Homo sapiens: one gene and its partners. The protein of the gene in region 3 purifies or fractionates together with the protein of the main gene of each other region. This does not show direct contact. Each region holds a gene or a part of one and is shown on either strand. Other genes may lie near its edges.

Region 1 (3,651 bases), on a different chromosome or scaffold from region 3:
CAAGTGCCAGATGACGCAGCAGCTGGTGCTTCTCTCCTGTGTGCTTCCACAGGACCGGCCTCTGTGGTTTGCTGTTTCCCACTGTCATTAGCTGAATGCATGTCTCCTTCACTACGTGGTGATACTGCAGGAACAGGCACCCTGTGTGAATTCATTTATGATCCCTTAGCATAGAGCTGTGTCACTATGGGTGGGATGAATACTGTGAGTGTTCAAATAACTGAGAATAAAACACTCTAACCTATGAAAGTCATGAAGTATCTGGTATGCACTGCTGCTGTCAAGGGTTAACCAAATTTTATATAGCCCTTAGTTACCACTTGTTAACCCATTTATGCCTAGTGTTCCATTACTGGAACGCTAAGCTTGTGGGATTTATATTCTACTGCTCAAGGTCATTGCCAAGGCCTGATTTTTCACACAAAAAATTCGCAACCTCTGGCACAAACGGGTTAAAAACTGGAGTATTTTGAAAAACAGTATTCTTCAGCACATATTTAAAACACTATAAAATTACTGCATATAGCATCCACTTTAGTAGTCAAAAAACAAAAACAAAATCAATCAAAATCTTCAATAACAGAAAAGGATAAGGCACAGCGCTACAAGCTTTGGATCTCTTGGTTGTAACATAGTCAAATGGTCGCATGTTAGGATTATATTAACAGGGCACTGCTGTTGCTTTATTACTTTTTAAAAATAGCTTTTTGGAACTGAAAAAATACAACTTAACCACTAAGGAAGTAAAAAAATCACTCATAGTATGGCTCTCTCTCTCTCTCTCTCTCTCTCTCCAGACATATGGATAATGAGGGCATGGGAACCTTCCTCCTCATTCCCTGCCACTTCCTCCTGTTTCCCTATCACAGGAGGAAACTCCTGTTAAGTTTGGTGGATGCACACAGACATCTCAAAACAGGATTTCCTATCTCATCAAGCTAAAGTAATTATAGCTCTAAATTACACTTCAAGAGGAGTTTATAAATTTGATAAATGCATAAACTGTTTTAGCAGTGTCAAGACAGGGCTTAGAAAGTGACCTCAATTCTTACAGTGACAAAGAAAGATGACTCTATCCACTTAAAATTCTATGCTCTGTGACCAGCCAGCAGAGCCTCTCACACAAATGACTTTGGGAGGACCATGATAGGACTGAAAAATGAAAATGGTCGGTGTTGAAGGAGTCAGGTCTCATCGTTTGCAATTCTGTCAAAATCAATGGAAGGCAGGAGATCATGGGCTAAACGCTTCTGCGTTCTTTGGTTGATTCTACCTCGAATTCTTCAACTCAAATTTGGCACAACAATAATATGAAAAATGCTGATACAATTTGTATTCTTTTCAGAAGGGGAGTGTAGAATAGCAGCTGGTTCTACCATCATATACATGACCTCATCTGTAAAACAAATTATAGTATCTTTCTCACAGAACTATTGTATTAAATGAATATATGCAAAACTCTTAGAATACTGCCTAAAACACAGTTAACTACAGAGGTGTAAGTTCATACAACTTCATAATAGAGATAGTATTTTCTTAAAAGAACAGCTAACAGCAGCTGATTACTCAAAAATTATGCAGTGATTTTTATTTTGGGGGCTCAGCTCAATAGCAGGTAGCATAAAATGGTTTGGGGGACAGGTGACCAAAGAACAGAAATCCTTTAAAAAAAAAAAGGTCTTTAAACAATTCTAAACTCAAAAGGTCTTACAACAACTTGATTTCAAACCTAAAACAATCACCACCACCAACAAAAAAAAGGTAAATTTTCACCCTCTTTTTTTTTGGAGAGAGAGTCACCCTACCGCCCAGGCTGGAGTGCAGTGGCGCTATCTCGGCTGACTGCAACCTCTGCCTCCCGGGTTCTAGCAATTCTCCTGCCCCAGCCTCCCTAGTAGCTGGGATTACAGGCGTACATCACGCCCAGCTAATTTTTTGTATCTTTAGTAGAGATGGGGTTTCACCATCTTGGCCAGGCTGGTCTCAAACTCCTGACCTCGTGATCCACCCGCCTTGGCCTCCCAAAGTGCTGGGATTATAGGCGTGAGCCACCACACCCGGCCTTGCCCTAACTCTTAAAACTTTCAATGATGAATAAAGTGGCAGGGAGTCATTTTGAGGCATAAAAAAATTCTGTACAAACTTTTCATTTAACGCTTAACCAAAACAAAATAAGGCCAGGGTGGAAAATATCTTATATGGCATTATTAAGTTCAGAGATTTCTACATACTAAAGATAAGCCTGTCATGGAAATTATGAAACTCTCAACAGATGCCATAAAACAGTGAAATTATCTGATATCATACACAACACCTGATATTGCACATCATGGAAAGCTTTATTAACAAAGACCCCAGGGTTTAATCAAATATTGAAAGGAAAACAAATATGCTACCGTTAACACCCACATCCAGGAAAAGCTTATGTAAGAATTATAAGTTTTAAATAGGTGAGACTGCTTATTTTTTAACATAGAAAAATTGCAAATTTGTCAATCTTTAAGAAAGGATATAGTAAAGGCTTACCATGTGACCGTCCCAGTTTACTTAGGAATACAGAAATAGGTAATTAAAATAAATTGTGCAAACATATATTACATCAATCTGCCCAAATTATAAATTCAACGATGCATTAGGACTGTATTCAGTGCAATCAAAACATTATCAGTTACGGCTGCTGCTGCTAATGCTCATGCTCCTAAGAGAAATGTGTTGTAAAACCAGGCAGAACGGGCTGGAGAGAGACTCTCGTGGACTTGGAGGATGAATAAGCATTCCTTAATTAGCCCATCAGGTTAAGTGCAAGCATTAATGGGCCCTTCCTAAAGTCTAGCTTGACATCTTTCTCCAAACATGGCCAAGAAGAAAGTTCCATTAGCAATATTAATACAAGCTTAGTTGATCATTTTCATTCAATTAACTTCTTTCAATTAAATAGATAGCTTGACAAAAGCAGTGATAAAAGACCCAAAGGGACAGCTGATGACTCGAACTGAACATTAGTGTGCGAGAGGTCGCTGGTATTAAACGGACTGTAAATCTAGCATTCAATTTGGAAAATGCATTTCTTCTGCTCTCACTCCTTTAATGAGCAATTTTAGCTGACTAGATGTGTTTGCTGCAGAAATTTCATGGGAAGTCAAGCACCCTTTTCCTTTTCTTTTTTTCCATCCCAACAGTTACATTCTCACTGGTGGTGGTTTCCTGCCAACATTCCAGCCACAGTAACTCAAAACTTCACTTTCTGGTTAAGAACGAAGATATGTTAAAATAATTTATATACAACTAGCATTAAAAATTAATGACCTACTTTACGTTGTTAATCAATTTTTGAAAGGTTTGAAAAAACAATAAAATCTAAGAAATATTTAGTGAAAAATAAAAACATTTTAAAAACTGTATTTATATTTCATCGTGTCACAGTTAAGTAGTTAGGGCCACATAGAAAAGATGCATGTAACAAGGTTTAAAAACATGGTTTTAAGTGAGGCAAATGTAAATTAAAATGAAAGTAATTTTAGTTAATTAAATTACCTTAATTAATCAAAAGTACTAAAATTACTTTTCTTAATTAAAAAGGTATATAGGCCAGCTGCAGTGGCTCACGCCTATAATCCCAGCACTATGGGAGGCAGAAGCAGGAGGAATCCA
Region 2 (3,651 bases), on a different chromosome or scaffold from region 3:
GAAAGCAGGGAGAGGAAAATCCTTTTTAGACTTTTGAGGCCTTAGAGCAAGGCTTAGCGGGAAGGGAACATTCTGGGAAGCTGAAGAGGGGAAAAGACACCCCCTCTCACCTGATAATGCATCAGTGTGTTGAGCCGCTTCCAGTCACCCTCAATCTTGGTGGTGATGTCCTCATCTTGCAGCACGACCCGGGCGATCCGGCCTTGGCGCCACTCTGGGTGGAGGGGGTGGTGCAGGGAGCGGCGTGAGAGGGATGAGGGCTGTGAGCCAGTGTCTCCCGATTGCACCTTCTCTAGGGACCTGGCAACCCGGCCCCCTCAAGCTGGTACCAATAACAGAGGCTAGAGACATCTAGGGCTCCATGGGCCCAGGCAGCAGAGGAAACACGTAGACCTCCCCAGAGACAGCCACATCTGAACAGGCAGCGCTCAAAGCGGGAAGCATTTCACACGGGCCTCAGCTGGCCAGGACACAGTCATGCCCCTGCAAGGGTTGTGTGCATGGCAGCTTCCCTTCCTTCACCTCTCAACCCCTGCCCTCACACTCTGAGTCCAGGTTTCCTACCCAAGTCCATGTCCACTGCCCTCGGCCGCTGGGAATAGGGCACATTCTTATACACGGCATCAAGAATCTTCTCCTTGACCTGTGTGATGGTGTCACAGTTTAACACCTTCACTGGGATCTCTGGACTGTTCTCGTTGTCAGGGTTGACGCAGTTCAGGATCTACAAGTAGGGGACAGAGGGTGAGCAGGACAGGAGTTGAAGGAGTAGTTTGAGGGAGAGGGTCAGGACCTCAGAATCTTCTTTTTCCAAAGTTCACCCTCCTTATAGGGGAAATAAGGGTACTTTTCTGGTCTGTGACTCAGTTTCCCTCACCTTCATAACATCTGCCAAATGAGAGTCTGAGTCATTGTGTCCAATTCTTCTTTCTCAAAGCACCAGGACTCTACTTTCTAGCTCCTGGACAGCTTAGGGGAGACTATAGTCCTGGAATGAGGCACCCTCAGTGTTTAGAGATGGCTCTACATGTATCAGAGACTAGTCATGCACTTCCCCAAAGCCTCTATGTTAGGAACCAACATACATCTTTCTCATAATACCAATTACCCAATAACTAATGATGGGTGAACTTTTTTCTCCCCCAATATTATCTAGGATAAACCGAGGCATAGAGTGCTTGGGATGGGTGGGCGGGCCTGCCACCTTGCTCTTGGTACACTTAGTTGTCCTTTGGGCTCACCCCAGACCAGCCTCCCATCCTCTTTATTGACCCCCTAGACTGCTTTTATGGACAGAAGGCAGAGCAAGGGGCAGAAGTAGAAGATACACAGGCGGGCCCGGAGCTTCCGGCTTCCTCACCAGGGTCTTGTACTCGATCTGCTGCCGGATGAGCTTGTCCTCGCTCAGGGAGTAGCGGGCCTCGCCCGTGATGGCATCAATGGGGCCCTTCTCCATCTGCTGCTTGATGGCACAGTATAGCATGAAGAGTGGCTCCCCTGCGCACTCCTGTGGGCACAGACAGGGCAGGAGGTGTGGGCACGGCCTCCTCAGGTTTGTACGTTTTCCCTTTCCTCTCTCGGAGCGAGGCCAGTGGAAGGAAGGGCTTTAGCACAGCCAGTCCAGGTTCCTGCTCCCGAGGGAGGGGGTCCCCATGCAGCCCTGTGGCCAGGATCTAAGCAGCAGTGCCATCCTGCCCTGGACGCTAGGCCCCGTCTCACTCCCTTTCTCACCTTTAGGAACTTGTGCAGGAGGAAGGCGAACCAATTGGTCAGCATCTTTTCAGCCACAGACTCTGTCCTGGGGAAGGGACAAAGGGTAAGGGGCAGTCCTTCACAGAGGGGTCTCCGTGGTGGGGCCTGGGCTTGCCATGAGGTCTCCCAAGAGAACAATGGAGCATGGGAGAACGCAGGGCGGGAGTCAGGACACCTGGGTCCCAGCCCAGCTCACCCAGTAACTAGACTGTGACCTGGGGGTAGGGGTGGCTTCTTTCTGGGCCTCAATTTCCTATGAAAATGGAGAGGTTGGCCTTTTCAGCCCTGATGGTCCGTGGTGCTCTGAACTTTGGCTGCATCTGAGACAGGGTCTGTGGATAAAGGCACCTCACTATCCCACAGGGCTATAAAGAACCGGTTCTCCCAACTCACTTCTGGCCTCAGGGTGATAACTAGAGAGTTTCCCAGTCCCTCTGGGCTTTCTTGCATGTGTGAGTACCCTGTTTTGCCTATCTGGAAGGTGCCTGGTCCCTTCCCCTCCAAAAACACTCAAGGTTAGACTTCCTTGGGTTCAAATCCTGATTCTGCCATACGTTGGCTGTGTGACCTTGGGCAAGTCATTTAACCTCTCTGGTTTCAGTATTCCTATCACTAAATGGAGACAGTCATAATAACATCCAACCCCAGTGGTTGTTGTCAGGGTTGAATGAGTTAATATTTGTAAAGTGCTAAGAAAAGTGCCTGGCACCTGCTAAGCACTATCCATTAGCTGTCATTATTGCTGTCATGTGGGGTCTTGGATCCCAGCCCTCAGGTAGAGAGCAGTGCTTAAGTGTTTTGCCAACAGGGGATTTGCTCATGCAAGGGCTGGCCCCCCTCCCCTTCCCATCCCAGGGCTACAGATCTGGGGATTTGGGAAGGAACAAAGCGGCTGTGACAGACCCTCAGTGAAGGGGATGCCGGAGGGGTATTTTAACTCCCTGCACGTGGTGCAAATTATATCCTCTGGTTGCAGTAAATCCCAGGCATTTGCCAGGGCTGCTCAGCAATCTGGGCCTGGGAGAGAGTGACAATGGCAGAAAAAATTGTAGCTTTCTCCCGTGGCTCCTCCCAGCACCCTCTCCCTGCATTGTGCTTGAGATTAGCTCTAATTTAAATACAACAGTTCTTAATGAGAGTTTCTAATGCTCAGATTGGCAGGATGGGGGCTCAGTACTCATAAAGCAAAGCCATTCTTCCTCCCTCCTCACCCCACGTGGGGCCTGGAAGCCTGAGACCTTGCTAGAGGAAGGCTAAAGAGGAGGGGTGGTGAACGGAGGTGCAGCCCTCCAGCCCCTGCTGCCCAGAGGACTCCAAAGCTGTGCCCGGCTCCCCACGGCCTCTAGAGAGGGTGGGCTCAGGGGATACTGAGGTCTCCAACCCTCTCCCCTGCCAGGAAAAATGCAGTGGGCATGTGTAGTGGATGCTGTGATTCAGATCCAGGAAGCTGAGCTCAGAAGGCACGGCCTTCTAGGCTGTCCAAATCCCTAGCTCAGTGCTGCGCAATAGAACCTTCTGCGATAATGGGAATGTTCTCTATCTGTGCGGTCCCGTATGGTGGCCACTAGCTGCAATGTGGCAACCAAGCACTTAGAAAGCGGCTAGGTGCTAGGGCAATGGAGGAGCTGGATTTTACATTCTATTTCATTTTAATTTGTAGCAGCTACCTGTGGCTAGGGGCCGCTGTGCCGGACAGCACAGCTCTAGAGGCACCGGGAGGAAGAGACTGTGAGATAGGAATTATTTTTCTCATTTTGTCTAGGAGGAAACTAAACAACAGAGTGGTTACAACACTGGCCAGAAATCACAGAGCTAGCAGGAGGCAGAGCTGGGACTCCAGCTGAGATCCGAGCAAGGGTCTGAGCTCATCCATCACACCTGGGTGACTTCAGACTCTGT
Region 3 (3,651 bases):
CCCGAAGTGCTAGAATGACAGGTGTGAACCACCGTGCCCAGCCTGAAGCAGACAGCTTTTTTTTTTTCTTTCTTTTTGTGTAGACCTCCTCTGCGGTCAAGATAAGTGTTTTAAGGCTAGGCACAGTAGCATACATTTGTAATCCCAGCAACTTCGGGAGGCTACAGCAGGAGGCAGGAAGATCACTCGAGCGCAGGAGTTCGAGACCAGCCTGGGCAACATGACAAAACCCTACCTCCACAAAAAAATACAAAAACTAGCCGGGTATGGTGGTATGTGCCTCTAGTCCCAGCTGTGCGAGAGACTGAGGTTCCCTTGAGCCTGGGAGGTGAGCGGAGATCACACCACTGCATTCCAGTCTAGGCAACAGGGCAAGACCCTGTCTCAAAAAAAAGAGAAGAAAACAGTGTTTTAAATGGATAAAATATTTAGTTAATATTTAGAGGAAAACTATGATTATAGATTAATGTTACTATCTAGTTTCACCAGTTAGAAACAGAAACTGAAAAGATTTTGTCAATGGATTAAAAATAATAAGCCCAGCTGGGTGTGGTAGCTCACAACTGTAATCTCAGCACTTTAGGAGGCCTAGGCGGCTGGATCACTTGAGGTCAGGAGTGCGAGACCAACCTGGCCAACATTGTGAAACCCCATCTCTACTAAAAGTACAAAAATTAGCCGGCGTGGTGGCACGCGCCTGTAGTCCCAGCTACTAGGGAGGCTGAGGCAGGAGTATCGCTTTAACCAAGGAGGCAGAGGTTGCAGTGAGCTGAGATCGCACCATTGTACTCCAGCCTTGGCAACAAGAGCAAGACTCTGTCTCAAAAAAAAAAAAAAAAATACACCCAGATGCAGCGGCTCAAGCCTTAAATAAGTTTGGGGTGACCCCCACTGACCCTGGTTAACCACACTCCACCCCAGAGAACTCAGTATTTTTCTTTCAAAGCACTCATCATACTTCTCTTACCTGGCAGAAAGAAAGCTATTTAAGGCCAGGAAGATGTCTGCTGTGTCCCCTGAGCCAAATGGATGAAAGAGAACTTAAAAGACAAGTAAGATAACTCACAATCAAGATCTGAATTTTCCGACAGACTTCATCATCCATAATCACTAACCAATCTTGTAGCGAGTGTGCCCAAATGCTTGTCCCCAAATCCAGCTGCTATACACACAAATGACTTAAGAAATGTATTTACACAATGTGGCTGTGTCACCACCAAGAACACGCTGGGCATTTGACAGCAATTCAACATGAGCTTCAGAGACACCCACAACAGCCAATGAGGCAGATGTTTCAGCTGAGCAAAGCAGATGTCAGACAAGGACAGCTACTGTGTCCAGTTGTTTACAGCAAGCAGCTATTTCTCTCTCCACCAAGAATAATCTCAAGACAAAGAACAGGCCCATAACCATTTTTCCAGAACCACTTTAAAGATCATGGTTCCATGACAAAGGCAAAAGTATCACAGCACATGCAGTCAGCACTCAAAAGCCCAAACACAAGTTCCTTTCCTTTGCAGAACTGAAAAACTTTTACAGTACTTGAGAAGGGCTCACAATGCCTCCTAAAAATAAGTTGAGGGCGAACAGCTGATAGGCAACTATTACACAGAATAAGTTTTGTAGTCTGTCCAGAAAATACCATGGAGTAAGCCTTTCTCCTGAATTCCAAGGCAGATTTCCTGCAACTCCCCCACAAATTAGTGTTAATTTTTTTTTTTTTTTTTTGAGACGGGGCCTAGCTGTGTCACCCAGGCTGGAGTGCAGTGGCGCAATCTCCACTCATTGCAAGCTCCGCCTCCTGGGTTCATGCCATTCTCCTGCCTCAGCCTCCCGAGTAGCTGGGACTACAGGTGCCCGCCACCACGTCCGACTAGTTTTTTTTGTATTTTTAGTAGAGACGGAGTTTCACCACGTTAGCCAGGATGGACTCGATCTCCTGACCTCGTGATCCACCCACCTCAGCCTCCCAAAGTGCTGGGATTACAGGCGTGAGCCACCGCATCCGGCACAATTTTTATTTATTTTTATTTTTATTTTCTTGAGTCAGAGTCTTGCTCTGTCGCCCAGGCTGGAATGTAGTGGTGCAATCTCAGCTCACTGCAACCTCTGCCTCCTGGGTTCAAGCGATTCTCCTGCCTCATCCTCCCGAGTAGCTGGGACTACAGGTGCCCGCCACTATGCCCGGCTAATTTTTTGTATTTTTTAGTAGAGACGGGGTTTCACTGTGTTAGCCAGGATGGTATTTTTTTTTTATTTTTGAGACGTAGGCTCGCTCTGTCGCCCAGGCTGGAGTGTAGCGGAGCGATCTCAGCTCACCGCAACCTCCGCCTCCTGGGTTCAAACAACTCTCCTGCCTCAGCCTCCTGAGTAGCTGGGACTACAGGCACGTGCCATGACACCCGGCTAATTTTTTTTTTTTTGTAGAGATGGGGTTTCACCATGTTAGCCAGGATAGTCTCGATCTCCTGACCTCGTGATCCACCCACCTCAGCCTCCCAAAGTGTTGGGATTACAGGCTTGAGCCACCACGCCCAGCCAGGGATTTTTTTTTTCTTTTTTTTTTTTTTTTTTTTTGAGACGGAGTCTCACTCTGTCGCCCAGGCTGGAGTGCAGTGGCACGATCTCTGCTCACTACAACCTCCGCCTCCCGGGTTCACGCCATTCTCCTGCCTCAGCCTCCGGAGTGGCTGGGACTACAGGCACCCGTCACCACGCCTGGCTAATTTTTTGTATTTTTAGTAGAGACGGGATTTCACTGTGTTAGCCAGGATGGTCTCGATCTCCTGACCTCATGATCTGCCCCCCTTGGCCTCCCAAAGGGCTGGGATTACAGGCGTGAGCCACCGTGCCTGGCCAGAACAGTAATTTATTAATGCATTCATTAATAAATTAGGCCTGGCCCTAGCTAACTAATCAGATTCCCAGAGATTACGGCCAGCACCCCAGCTGAAATCATAGGACCAGGCACTCTTGTCCCACAGGAGTGGTAAGCTGCATAGTGGTTTAAAAATGTTCGGACAGGGGCGGGGGCGGTGGTTCATGCTTCTAATTCCAGCACTTTGGGAAGCCAAGATGGGCAGATCACTTGACATCAGGAGTTCAAGACCAGCCTGGCCAACATGGCGAAACCTCGTCTCTACCAAAAACACAAAAATTAGCCCGGCATGGTGATGCACACCTGTAATCTCAGCTACTCAGGAGGCTGAGGCAGGAGAATCGCTTGAACCTGGGAGGCGGGGGTTGCAGTGGGCCAAGATGGAGCCACTGCACTCCAGCCTGGGCAACAGAGCGAGAATCCATCTCAAAATAAATAAATAAATAAAAATAAATAACATAGGCCAGGCACGGTGGCTCAAGTCTGTAACCCTAGCACTTTGGGAGGCCGAGGCGGGAGGATCACCTGAGGCCAGGAGTTTGAGACGAGCCCAGCCAACATGGTGAAACCCCGTCTTTACTAAAAATAAAAAAAATAGCTGGGCGTGGTAGTACGTGCTTGTAGTCCCAGCTCCTCCAGAGGCTGAGGCAAGAGAATAGCTGGACCAGGGAGGCGGAATGAGCCAAGATCACGTCACTGCACTCCAGCCTGGGTGACAGAGGAAGACTCTGTCTCAAAAAAAAAAAAAAAAGAATTTCATTAACAGGTTTTGT

Evidence for each region.
Region 1: the proteins of FAM234A (region 3) and UBE3C purify together in Homo sapiens (affinity purification with mass spectrometry; one large-scale study listed by BioGRID and IntAct). This does not show direct contact.
Region 2: the proteins of FAM234A (region 3) and PLXNA2 purify together in Homo sapiens (affinity purification with mass spectrometry; one large-scale study listed by BioGRID and IntAct). This does not show direct contact.

Annotation. Positions count from the first base shown.
Region 1 is NC_000007.14:157,208,311-157,211,961, reverse strand, and holds part of UBE3C (ubiquitin-protein ligase E3C), read right to left. Parts: intron 1-3,651. UniProt on the Homo sapiens protein: E3 ubiquitin-protein ligase that specifically catalyzes 'Lys-29'- and 'Lys-48'-linked polyubiquitin chains.
Region 2 is NC_000001.11:208,038,261-208,041,911, forward strand, and holds part of PLXNA2 (plexin-A2 precursor), read right to left. Parts: intron 1,799-3,651; coding exon 1,732-1,798; intron 1,508-1,731; coding exon 1,361-1,507; intron 725-1,360; coding exon 565-724; intron 215-564; coding exon 111-214; intron 1-110. UniProt on the Homo sapiens protein: Coreceptor for SEMA3A and SEMA6A. Necessary for signaling by SEMA6A and class 3 semaphorins and subsequent remodeling of the cytoskeleton. Plays a role in axon guidance, invasive growth and cell migration.
Region 3 is NC_000016.10:237,692-241,342, reverse strand, and holds part of FAM234A (protein FAM234A), read right to left. Parts: intron 1,134-3,651; exon of another isoform or gene 1,067-1,133; intron 1-1,066.